3 linked regions of the Homo sapiens genome follow. The protein of the gene in region 3 purifies or fractionates together with the protein of the main gene of each other region. This does not show direct contact. Each region holds a gene or a part of one and is shown on either strand. Other genes may lie near its edges.

Region 1 (3,650 bases), on a different chromosome or scaffold from region 3:
CTGAAGGCGGGGAAGGGCCTGACCATCGTGGGCTCTGTCCTTGAGGGCACCTTTCTGGAAAATCATCCACAGGCCCAGCGGGCAGAAGAGGTGAGCAGAGGCCCTGGTTGGGCTTGGGAAAAGGTCAGGACACTTAGGAAGACAGTCTCTATCCTTTTGTACTTTCCTTCCTCATCACCTTCAGGATCAAAGGAAGTGCAGGCATTTCTTTTCTTTTCCTTAGAGGAAGAGCCTAAGAGCCTAGACAGTGAGTTCTTTAGAATTCAACTCACAGCATGAAAGACCATCAGAGGCAGAAGGGCCCATTTTATGGATAAGGAAACTGAGGCTTAGACAAGTCAGGTCATATGTCTAAGGACAGAAAATGAAGATTCAAATTAGGACTCCTTGAACTCCTACTCTAGACTCCTTCCTGCCAAAGTATAAATCTTTCAAGGTGATTTCCCAGCTGTGGACTCTTGATCCCTACAGTCTGGGGTTGACAAGGTGAGTATCCACATTTGATACAGGAAGAAACTGAGACCCAGAGAGGGAAAGCTGCTTGCTGAAAGTCGGAAAGCTGCTTGCTGAAAGTCAGAAAGCTGGTGGGAAGCAACATCAGGATTTGAACTCAGGCCCCTGCTCTGTGTCACCTGCTCTTGGTTCCACCCACTAGTCCATGCTTACAGGGCAGCCTACAGAACCAATGTGGGCTGTGGTGGCCAGTGTCTGCCTTAAGCACACAAAGAGGTGATTGGATCCCAAGGGTAGTAGAGGAAGTAGGTTCTGTCTGAGGGTCAGGCCTTTCTCCCATCAGGGCTGTGGCTAGCAGTGGAGAGAGAAAAAGAGGCCCGAAGGAGCAGAGGTGAGATGGGGAGGGGCACCCCGATGGCTTGCGACAGTCGCTGCTTCTGCCTCACTGGGCTGTTCACACTGATCTGTCAGGGCCCAGAGCTGGAGGCCTTGACTGGTCAGTTCCATTCAACACGCGGTGGCTGAGAATGTGCAGTGCACCAGGCACTGGGCGAGGCACAGGGGAGATGGAGATGTTCAAGACCAAGTCCCAGCCCTCGAGGTGCTCACAGGCTGGTGGGGAAGGCAGAGCATACACAGAAGGCTCTCAGACCCACCGGATGTCGATAAATGCTGTTAGAGTTAATAACATCAGGGTCGTACAATGTGTTGAGTGTTTTCAATTCCTCAGGCAGGATACTAACTAAGCCCTATGTGCATGATGACATGTGGTTCTCCCTATTCCTAAACAAGGTAGCTTGTCCTGACCCCTTGGGTGGTTAGGTGACTCACCCAAGGTCACACAGCCAGGAGGTGGCAGAGATAGGAGTTGAACTTCTATCTGTTTGACTTAGGGGTGGTGGTTAAGAGTGTGGGGGTTGGAGTCAGACTTCCCTGACTTGAATCCTCACAGTAACATTAGCTGTGTGTCCTTAAACAAGTCTTCCTTTCTCCAAGCCTCAGTTTCCCCATCTATAAAATGGGAGTAATAAGACTATTTCCCTCATAGTACAGTTTAAATGGGAGCCCTTAAAATACTTATTATGCTACTTAGAAAGATTGTTGAAACAAATTGTCTGGCTGTGCAGAGAAGCCCAGTTTAATTCTGGTCTGGGTGGGGGTGGTATCTGAAGACGGCGACATTTGAGCTGGGCCAGACAGGGTGTCATGTACAACTTGGCAGGGGCTTGTGTCAGGGTGATGGTGGAGAGCATGTCGGGCAGGGGGGCTGTATGAGCAGTGGGAGGGTGGCAGAAAGTGTGGTCAGATCATGAAGAGCCTTGATTGATCAAGAAGGAATGGGGCACAGAGATGATGGGGAGCCATGTGCCATTCTGGAGCCAGAGACTGACGTGATCAGAGCTGAGCTTCAGGAAGATTGGGATGAAAGGAGGGGAGAGATGGGAGGGAAGGAGGCTACAATGGGCCCAGCCAGGGCCAGGGAGGCCTGAGGCTGGTCCTTGTCTTTTCCCCCTCCCCTAGTCTATCAGGCGCCTGATGGAGGCAGAGAAGGTGAAGGGCTTCTGCCAGGTGGTGATCTCCTCCAACTTGCGTGATGGCGTGTCCCATCTGATCCAGTCCGGGGGCCTCGGGGGGCTGCAGCACAACACTGTGCTTGTTGGCTGGCCCCGCAACTGGCGCCAGAAGGAAGATCATCAGACGTGGAGGAACTTCATTGGTAACGCTATTGGGGGCTGGGGACAGAAGAGGGGTGGGGCTGGGGGCTGTAGAGGGGTGGAACTGGATTTCCGCTCCTTTGGGCCTGAGGGGTTTCCCAAGCACTGCGTGCCAAGTGTGGATTCAGCATATGCAGGTGACAGCAGTCAAGGCTGGCCACGTGCCAGCCACTGTGCTGGGCGCTGGGGACTCCGCTGTGAACGAGACAGTCTTGGCTCCTGCAGCGCTCACAGGCCCTGGGAGGAACACAGTGCAGGGCAGTGGGAAGAGCTACAGCTCTGAAGTCACAGAGGCTAGGCCCACATCTCAGCTCTGGTCCTTCCTAGCTGTGTGACTGTGCACACGTGACTCACTCCCTCTGAGATCAGATTTCTTGGTAATCGTAGGTAATAGTATATATAATAACTAACGTTTCTAGAATGAGTTCTGTGTGCCAGCAAGTTAAGGCTTTCTCTGATTCTCTCATCAGTCCTAGGAGGGCTACGCATTGTTATCTCCATCTTTTTTGATGTGAAACTGAGGCACAGAGAGATTAAGAAGTTTGCTCCAGCTGGGTTCGGTGGCTCACGCCTGTAATCCCAGCACTTTGGGAAGCCAAGGCAGGTGGATCGCTTGCGCTCAGGAGTTTGAGCTGGGCAACCTGGCAAACTACAGAGTAAATGAAAAAGAAGTTTGCTCCAAGTCACAAAGTGGGGAGCCAGGTTTTGAACCAGCCCGGAGGCTACACTGTTAGCTCCAAGCTATTCTGTCTCCTTTATAGGTAGATCATGGTTACAAGGTGTTGGGAGGATTCAGTGTGGTCATACATGATGGGCTCTTAGTAATCAGAAAGGGCAGGTGGTGTTATTGCCATTTGACAGGTGGGGAAACTGAGGCCTAGAGAGGTTGATAGACGTTCCTAGATCTAAACAATAAATATATGATGGGGCCCAAGTAGATGCTGGTTTTCTGACCACTCAGCCCATGGCCAAGGCCAGTTGGAGTGGGGTGGAGTGCTGGCTGCCAGGAGCCCTTGTGGCTGCTGCTGGGTGTTGGGAGAACCAGAGTCACTGTTTCCCCCTCTGGCCCTCTCCTTGGCCTCCCTCAGAGCTGGTCCGGGAAACCACAGCTGGCCACTTAGCCCTGCTGGTCACCAAGAACGTTTCCATGTTTCCTGGGAACCCTGAGCGCTTCTCTGAGGGCAGCATCGACGTTTGGTGGATTGTGCACGATGGAGGCATGCTCATGCTGCTGCCCTTCCTGCTGCGGCACCACAAGGTGAGTTGTGTGCGTGAGTGTATGCACGTGTGAGTGTGTGTATGCATGTATGCATTTGTGTGCATATGTGCACAACTGCAGGTCAGACTCAGGGGCTCTGGCCAGGGTCAGCTTCCGTGTCCTTCCTCCCCTGTAAACTCCTGGGAAAGGGATCTGCTGACCTACTTCATTCTGAGATGTTAGGAACTGATGGTTTCTCCTCTTGCAGGTGCACTGCTGTAAGG
Region 2 (3,750 bases), on a different chromosome or scaffold from region 3:
CGCAGGTACAGATGTGGGCACTGCAGACACGGAGGTGCAGAAAGATGCAGGTAAAGAAGGAAGAGAATGCCAGGCATGGTGGCCCAGGCCTGTAATCTCAGCACTTTGGGAGGCTGAGGCAGGAGGATCGCTTGACCCTAGGAGTTCAAAACCAGCCTGGACAACATAGTGAGACCCTGTCTCTACAAAAAATAAAATTAGCCAGGTGTGGTGGCGCGTGCCTGTAGTCCCAGCTACTCAGGAGGCTGAGGTGGGAGGATCACTTGAGCCTGGGACGTTGAGGCTGCAGTGAGCCGAGATTGCACCACTGTACTCTAGCCTGGGCAACAGAATGAGACCCTAACTCAAAAAAAAAAAAAAAGAGAGAATGGACGGAGCCCAGGGAACCCTGAGGTTGAAGGGCTGTGGGAAAAAAGGTAAGGACCTGGAAAGAGGCTGGGAGACAACACTCACAGATCAGGTTGGGGGGTAGGTGGGCGGAGCACCACAGACAGGAGGGTTTCAGGAAGAGGGGCTCATCAGGGTCACATGCTGCTGAGAGGTCAGGGATGGTAAGGCCCGACTGGCGGTGTGGGATGAGGGTTTATCAGACACAGATTTGGCACCAAGGAGGTCACTGGGTACCTGGCAAGAGAATGCCGGGTGCGGTGGCCCAGGCATGGAATCCCAGCACTTTGGGAGGCTGAGGCAGGAGGATCGATTGAGAGTCAAGACCTGTCCCATTGGGGACCGGCGCCCCATTGCAGGGGGTGGGAGGAGCTGGTGTGGTGTAAGGATGGGGAGAGGAGAGGTGGGCATCAGAACAGGAGGTCACTCAGACCCTCAGGGGCACCTGATTTCCCCTCCCACTAAGGACAAATTTCATGTTCAACAGTCAGAGCCATCTGCAGATGGGCCAAGAGGTCCTGGGAGGTAGTGAGCACCCTGTCCCTGGAGGCAGACAAGCAGAGCTCCGAGACCCACCGCGGCGGGAGAGGCCCAGGCTGTGCAACACAAGCCCCGTGTCCTTCTCAGCAAGCACCTGGCTGGTTCCCTGCATCGTAAAAACCACACAGAGGGTCGGTCTTTCTATTTATAGTGTCCAAAGAGCCTCCTGCAAGAACACACATGGGCTCGCACCCAGAGGTGGTCGGCGCGCAGCCTCACGCAGACACCAGACACAAAACACAGCCGCGATCTGTGTCTCCTGGAAAGGGATCCACATCCTGGCTCCCAGGTTATTCCCTGAATTCATTCCGTCACCCCCTCTTTCCGCCGGGCCACCCCACCCCCCGGGCCACCCTAGCATCTCCGCTTGGCTCTCCGCATCTCTCCCTGCTCCTCGGGCTCTGCCCACCCCCACCCGCCTCCAGGCCTCTCCCGCCCCCTCCTCGGGTGTCCCCCAAGCCCGTGACTACAACCCCCAGGCGCCCCCGGCCCGGGTGCTGCGCATGCCCCCTGCTCCTTGCGCGCTCCCGCTCCCCCCGCCCTCGCTTCCTCCTCACCTCCCTCCGCCCCCCTCCCCCGCGCTCGGCTCCCGCATCCCTCCATCCTACCCTGTGCCGCAGCCGCATCGCCACCGCAGCCCGGCAGAGCCGAGCCCGGCCCAGGCCCCTGCCCCTGCCCGGCCCTCGGCCAGTCGCCCCCGGCCCCGCCCCCGCCCGCAGGCCCCCCGCAGCGGCCGCGGCGCCCCCCGGCGCCCCCAGACCCCGGCCTCCGGCACAGAGGCGGGAGACCCGGAGCAGCAGCAGAGGCAGGAGGACTAGGAGGAGGAGGAGGAGCCGTCGCAGGATGAAGGATCGGACTCAAGAGCTGCGGAGTGTGAGCTTGGGGGTGGGGAGAATGGGGGGGCGGGACCCCAATATTGGGGGAGCGCGTGGGGATGGAGTGGGGGAGGTGCTGGGACGTGGGGGCGAAGGATGAGATCGGAGGTTGGTAGCCGGAGCACCCCAGTATCTTCAGGCGCCTGATGTCTCTCCAGTGAACCTGCATTTTGGGGACAGTGCCTGGAAGGGGTTGGAGGCCATGAAGACACAAGGGGGCAGGAGAGGTCTCAGGGGCCTCGAACACCCCGCATTCCCAGGAGGGCCCCGGGGTCTGGTCTGGGGATGGGAGAGAGTGGATATCAGGAGAAACCGGAGGAGACTGTCATCCCCTGGGCAGGTTTGCCAAAGAGAAGCATGGGGGCGGTGACTGGGCCAGGCTGAGAGTCTAGCAGGACCCAGATTCAGGGGATGCTACGGGGAAGGACACAGGTTGGGACTGAGATGCCAGCACCTGGCAGTGAATGAAGTGTGTGTGTGTGTGCACACGCGTGTGTCACTCCCTATAGGGAGGGGGCATCTCTCCGAGACAGGGAGGGAAGAGGTGGCCTCCGGAGAGAGCCAGAGGGCCAGGGCCTGAGACAGGGTGACCCAGAGGTGGGAGATGGGGATGCAGAGGAGAGGGCCATGGAACACGGGCCGTGCTCTGCTTGGGGGAACTGGGGCACCCCGGGCAGTCAAGGGCTGATGCAGGCCCCAGGTCTGCAGGCCTGAAGAGGCCCGGCTCCAAGAGTCTGGCCAGGCAGTCCCTGGTTTTGGGGGGACAGGGGAAGGACTGCAGTGGAGGCTGCTACCTGGAGGAACTGGGGAGTGGGGTTCGATGAGAATGGTTTCAGGGGCAGGGAGGACGCTGGGGTATTTGGAGAAATGACCTGGGGCCCGAGGAGGCAGCACTGACAGTCCGCACTGTGCTGGGCTGGTGGTGTTATGTTAATAAGGGTACCGGCCCCGGCTGAGCTGCCCAATGCACTGAGCCTTTACAGGGAACTGGTGGGTTGTTACCCCAGGGGTTATTACCCCACTTGACAGATGAGGAAACTGAGATTCAGGCGTGGGAAGGGACTTGTCCAAGGTCACCAAGCAAGTGGGTGGGGGGCAGACTGCAATCTGGGTTTCCTGTCTGCTAGGTTGACACAGGTCTCTGCTTTTCTGGCCTTTGAAACAGAAGTTTCAGCACTGGGGGTGAAGAGCTGTCCCCTGGATTTGGGGGTGGGGACCCAGGTTACAGACAGACGAGAAGAAGGTGTTTGGAGGCAAGTGACCGCTGTCTCTGGGGACAGACAGGTTGCCAAATGGGAAGCAAGGAGGAGCTGGTGGCTGAGGGAGGGAATTTTAAAGGTTTCTTTATTACATTTTTACTGAATATACACTCAGGCATGAGGAAAGTGACAGTAATAATAAACATTGTTTGAAGTGTTTTATGCATATTCACTCATTTTGATCCTCACAGCAATCCTATGAGACTGGTTATCTCATTTCATAGATATATAAATATCTTTTTAGATATATAGATATATGTTATCTCATTTTATAGATAAGGACACTAAGCTCAGAGAGGTTAAGTAATTAGACCAAAGTCACACAGCTGGTAAAGGCAGGATTCAAACCCAGGCAGGCCGGCTTCAGCATCGGTGCTGTCAATTCCCCTCCTCAGTTTGCAGAGCAGGCTTTCATCCGTGATGTCATTAGAGCCCCACTGACCTCCTGGCAAGTGGACGGGGAGGCTCTTTCATTTTAGAGTTGGGGAAACTGAGGCCCAGAGTGGTTGAATAACTTTCCAAAGGTCACACAGCTAGCAGGTGAGGGATCCGGACTTGAACCCAGTTCCCCTGCTACCAGGACTATTCCATGACTCCAAAACCCAGGGAAATGGAAGTGGGTTGGGATCAGGTGGTGTGGAATTGGGGTACAATTCGAGAAAGAGGGAGGGAAAAGGCTAAGCGGGGTA
Region 3 (3,650 bases):
ACAGGCGTGCGCCACCACGCCCAGCTAATTTTTGTATTTTTAGTGGAGATGGGGTTTCACCATGTTGGCCAGGATAGTCTCGATCTCTTGACCTCGTGATCTGCCCACCTTGGCCTCCCAAAGTGATGGGATTACCGCACCTGGCCCCATGCCTGGTAATTTTTGATTGGATACTTGACACTGGAAATTTTACATTATTGGGTGCTGTATTAGTCCATTTTCACGCTGCTGATAAAGACATACCCGAGACTGGGCAATTTACAAAAGAAAGAGGTTTAACTGGACTTACAGTTCCACGTGGCTGGGGAAGCCTCACAATTGTGGAAGAAGGCAAAGAGGGGCAAGTCACATCTTCTATGGATGGCAGCAGGCAGAGACAGGAGAGCTTGTGCAGGGAAACTCCCCTTTTTAAAACCATCAGATCTCATGAGACTCATTCACTCAGTATCACAGGAACAGCTCAGGAAAGACCCAATCACCTCCCACCTGGTTCCTCCCATGACATGTGGGATTGTGGGAGTTACAATTCAAGATGAGATTTGGGTGGGGACACAACCAAACCACATCAGGTGCTGTATATTTTTGTGTTTCTATAAATGTTCTTGAACTTTTTTCTGGGAAGACAACTGAGTTACTTAGAAACGGTTTCATCCTTCTGGATCTTGCTTTTAAGATTTTGTTAGATGAAACCAGAGCAGTGTTTAGTCTGAAACTAACTACTCACTACTGATGTAATATCTTACTGGGTATCTTACCCCATGCCCTGTGAAATATGAGGTACAAACAGGCCCTAGTTATGACTCGGAGTGAAGATGAGGTGCTGATAACTCTGATCCTTTTGGGTCGTTTTTTTCCCCCAACCTTGGATAGTTTCCTGACAAATACATGCCAATCAGTCTTCTGCTAAATAGTCCAGGGTAAATCCTCTGCAAATCTCTAGAGTTCTCTCTCTTTCTGTAGTTTTTTCCTCTCAGGTACATCCTGAAGCTCTAGATGTCTTGCTCTCTCTGGTGTCTCAACTCCAGTTCCTCAATTCAGGGATTCTACCAGGTCCCATCTGGATTCCTCTTCTCCGCAGTCTGGAAACTCTTTAAGGCTGTAAGCAAGGGCAGTTGCAGGGTTCACTATTCATTTATTTTCTGTCTTTCAGGGCTCACTTCTCTTGTTGCTTCATGCCCTGTGTCATAGAGACCATCGTTTATTCATTTTGGCTAGTTTTTTGGTTATTTCAGGTAGGAGGATAAATTCAGTCCCTGTTACTTTATTTTGGCCAGAAACAGAAGTTCTTAATGGTGTCTTTTATAAATAAAAATTTCAATTTTCATGAAGTCTGATTTATTAATCTTTTATTTTTATGGTCAGTGCTGTGTGTGTTCTGCCTTAAAAAAAACTTTTGCTTACTTGGAGATCATAAAACTATTTCTTTATGTTTTCTTTTAGAAGATTTATTGCTTTGTGTTTCTGGTATATGTCTAGAATTAATTATTGTACATAGTGTAGGGTTTAAGGACCTTTAAAACTTTTTCACATATGAATTACAGTTGATCCAGCACTAATTGTTATACCATGCAAACCCCAACCAAAAGTAACCTGGTATAACAATATTAATGTCAGACCAAATAGATGTTAAAGCAAGATGTGTTATTAGGGATAAATAGGAATATTTTGTAATGTTAAAAGAGTCAGTGCAACAACAAGAAGACATACCAATTCTAAATCTGTATGTGTCTAGAACATAGCTTTAAAATATGTAAAGTGAAAATTTTGAAACACAACTCTTGAGCAGAGAGACAAAAATCCTATACAAAATGTTAGCAAATCAAATCTGGCAATATGTAAAAATATGTAAAAATATGATATAACATCATGACTAAATGGGATTTATTCCAGGAGCATGTTTATTTATCACATTAACAAAGTGAAGGAGGAAAATGCTATTAACTTAATGAGTAAGGAAAACAGTTCGATAAAATGTACCACCTGTTCATAAAAAAGACATATTAGCAAACTAGTAATAGAAAATAATTTCTTTAATCTAATAAAGGATATCTATCAATACTCTGTAGCCACATCGTACTTAATGGTGCAATAGTGATCACTCCCCCACCTCCCCTAAGATTAGAAGCAAGATAAGGATGTCCAGTGTTACCACTTTTATAAATGAATTTAGCAAGGTTGCCAAATACATGTAAGATCAATATTTTTAAAATCAACTCTATTTCTATAAAGTAGCAACAATTAAAAATTGAAAATTTAAAAGATACCACTTAGAATAGCATCAAATGCCTAGGAATAAACCTAACAAAAGATGTGCAAGATTCTACACTCAGAACTACAAAACATTGCTCAGAAAAATTCAAGGCCTGTATAAATGGAGCAATATATAATAGTCATGGACTGGAAAACAATATAATTATCTTAATTCTCCCCCAAATCCAATTAATTACAGTCAAAATTCCAGCAAGTTTTTTTTTTGTTTTGTTTTTTTTGGTGGAGGAGGGATGGGGGAGATTGATAAGCTTTAAAATTACAATGTGTCACTTAATGACAGGGATACATTCTGAGAAACGGGTTAGGAAATTTTGTCGTTATGAATATCATAGAGTATACTTAAACAAACTTAGATAATACAGCCTACTACACACCTAGGCTGTGCAGTAAAGCCTGTTGCTCTTAGGCTACAGCCCTGTACCGTGTGTTACTGTATCCAGTTGTAACACAATGCTAAGTATTTGTGTATCTAAATATAGAAAAGTTTCATTAAAATGCACCATTAAAGGCAAAAAATGGTATACCTGAATGGGACACTTACCATGAATAGAACGTGCAGAACTGGAAGTTGCCTTGGGTGAGTCAGCGAGTGAGTGGTGAGTGAATGTGAAGGCCCAGGAGGCTGCTATACATTACTGTAGACATTACAAACATTGTACACATAGGCTACACTAAATTGTTTTATAAAAGTAATTTTTTACTTTATGATGTTATGACATTACTGGGAATTATTTAGCTCTGCTATAATCTTATAGGACTACTGTCATATATGTGGTCCATTGTTGATCAAAATGTCATTATGTGGTGCATGATTGCATATGAAAATACAAAGGATCTAGAACAGCAACTAAGAAAGCTCGAGTAATGAAGATAGTGTGGTGTTGTCCAAGGATAAATAGATAAGTAGAGCAGAATAGAGCCCACAAACAGATCCACTGAGAAACAATCACCTAACTTATGATAAATCTGGCAATATAATGCAGTGGAGAAAGGATCGTGTTTTCAACAACCTATTCCTTTTAAACTTTTTGTGTCTCTATATTTAAAGTGTATCTCTTATATATTATGTAATTTTGTCTTCTTAGTAATCCAAACTGAAAATCTTTGCCTTTTAACTAGTGCTTAGTTCATTTACGTTTAATGTAATTCCTAATATAGTTGGGTTTTTAATTTGTTCTTCCTTTCTTGCCTTCTTTTGGATGGAATCTTTTTTTTATTAATCTCTCCATTTTATATTCATCTACATTTTTATTTACATTATGCCTTTTGTAACTATTTTTAGATGGTTGATTACATAAACTTTTCTTTTCAAATGATTGTCAAGTCGTGGTATAACAGAACTACTCCCTTGAAGGTGAAATAGAGTGCAAATAACAGAT

The links.
Region 1: the proteins of NUFIP1 (region 3) and SLC12A5 purify together in Homo sapiens (affinity purification with mass spectrometry; 3 studies listed by BioGRID and IntAct, with this or other methods). This does not show direct contact.
Region 2: the proteins of NUFIP1 (region 3) and STX1B purify together in Homo sapiens (affinity purification with mass spectrometry; 3 studies listed by BioGRID and IntAct, with this or other methods). This does not show direct contact.

The regions. Positions count from the first base shown.
Region 1 is NC_000020.11:46,049,701-46,053,350, forward strand, and holds part of SLC12A5 (solute carrier family 12 member 5), read left to right. Parts: coding exon 1-90; intron 91-1,974; coding exon 1,975-2,170; intron 2,171-3,256; coding exon 3,257-3,426; intron 3,427-3,650. UniProt on the Homo sapiens protein: Mediates electroneutral potassium-chloride cotransport in mature neurons and is required for neuronal Cl(-) homeostasis.
Region 2 is NC_000016.10:31,008,417-31,012,166, reverse strand, and holds the start of STX1B (syntaxin-1B), read left to right. Parts: upstream 1-1,528; 5' UTR 1,529-1,770; coding exon 1,771-1,800; intron 1,801-3,750. UniProt on the Homo sapiens protein: Potentially involved in docking of synaptic vesicles at presynaptic active zones. May mediate Ca(2+)-regulation of exocytosis acrosomal reaction in sperm.
Region 3 is NC_000013.11:44,961,923-44,965,572, reverse strand, and holds part of NUFIP1 (FMR1-interacting protein NUFIP1), read left to right. Parts: intron 1-3,650. UniProt on the Homo sapiens protein: Binds RNA.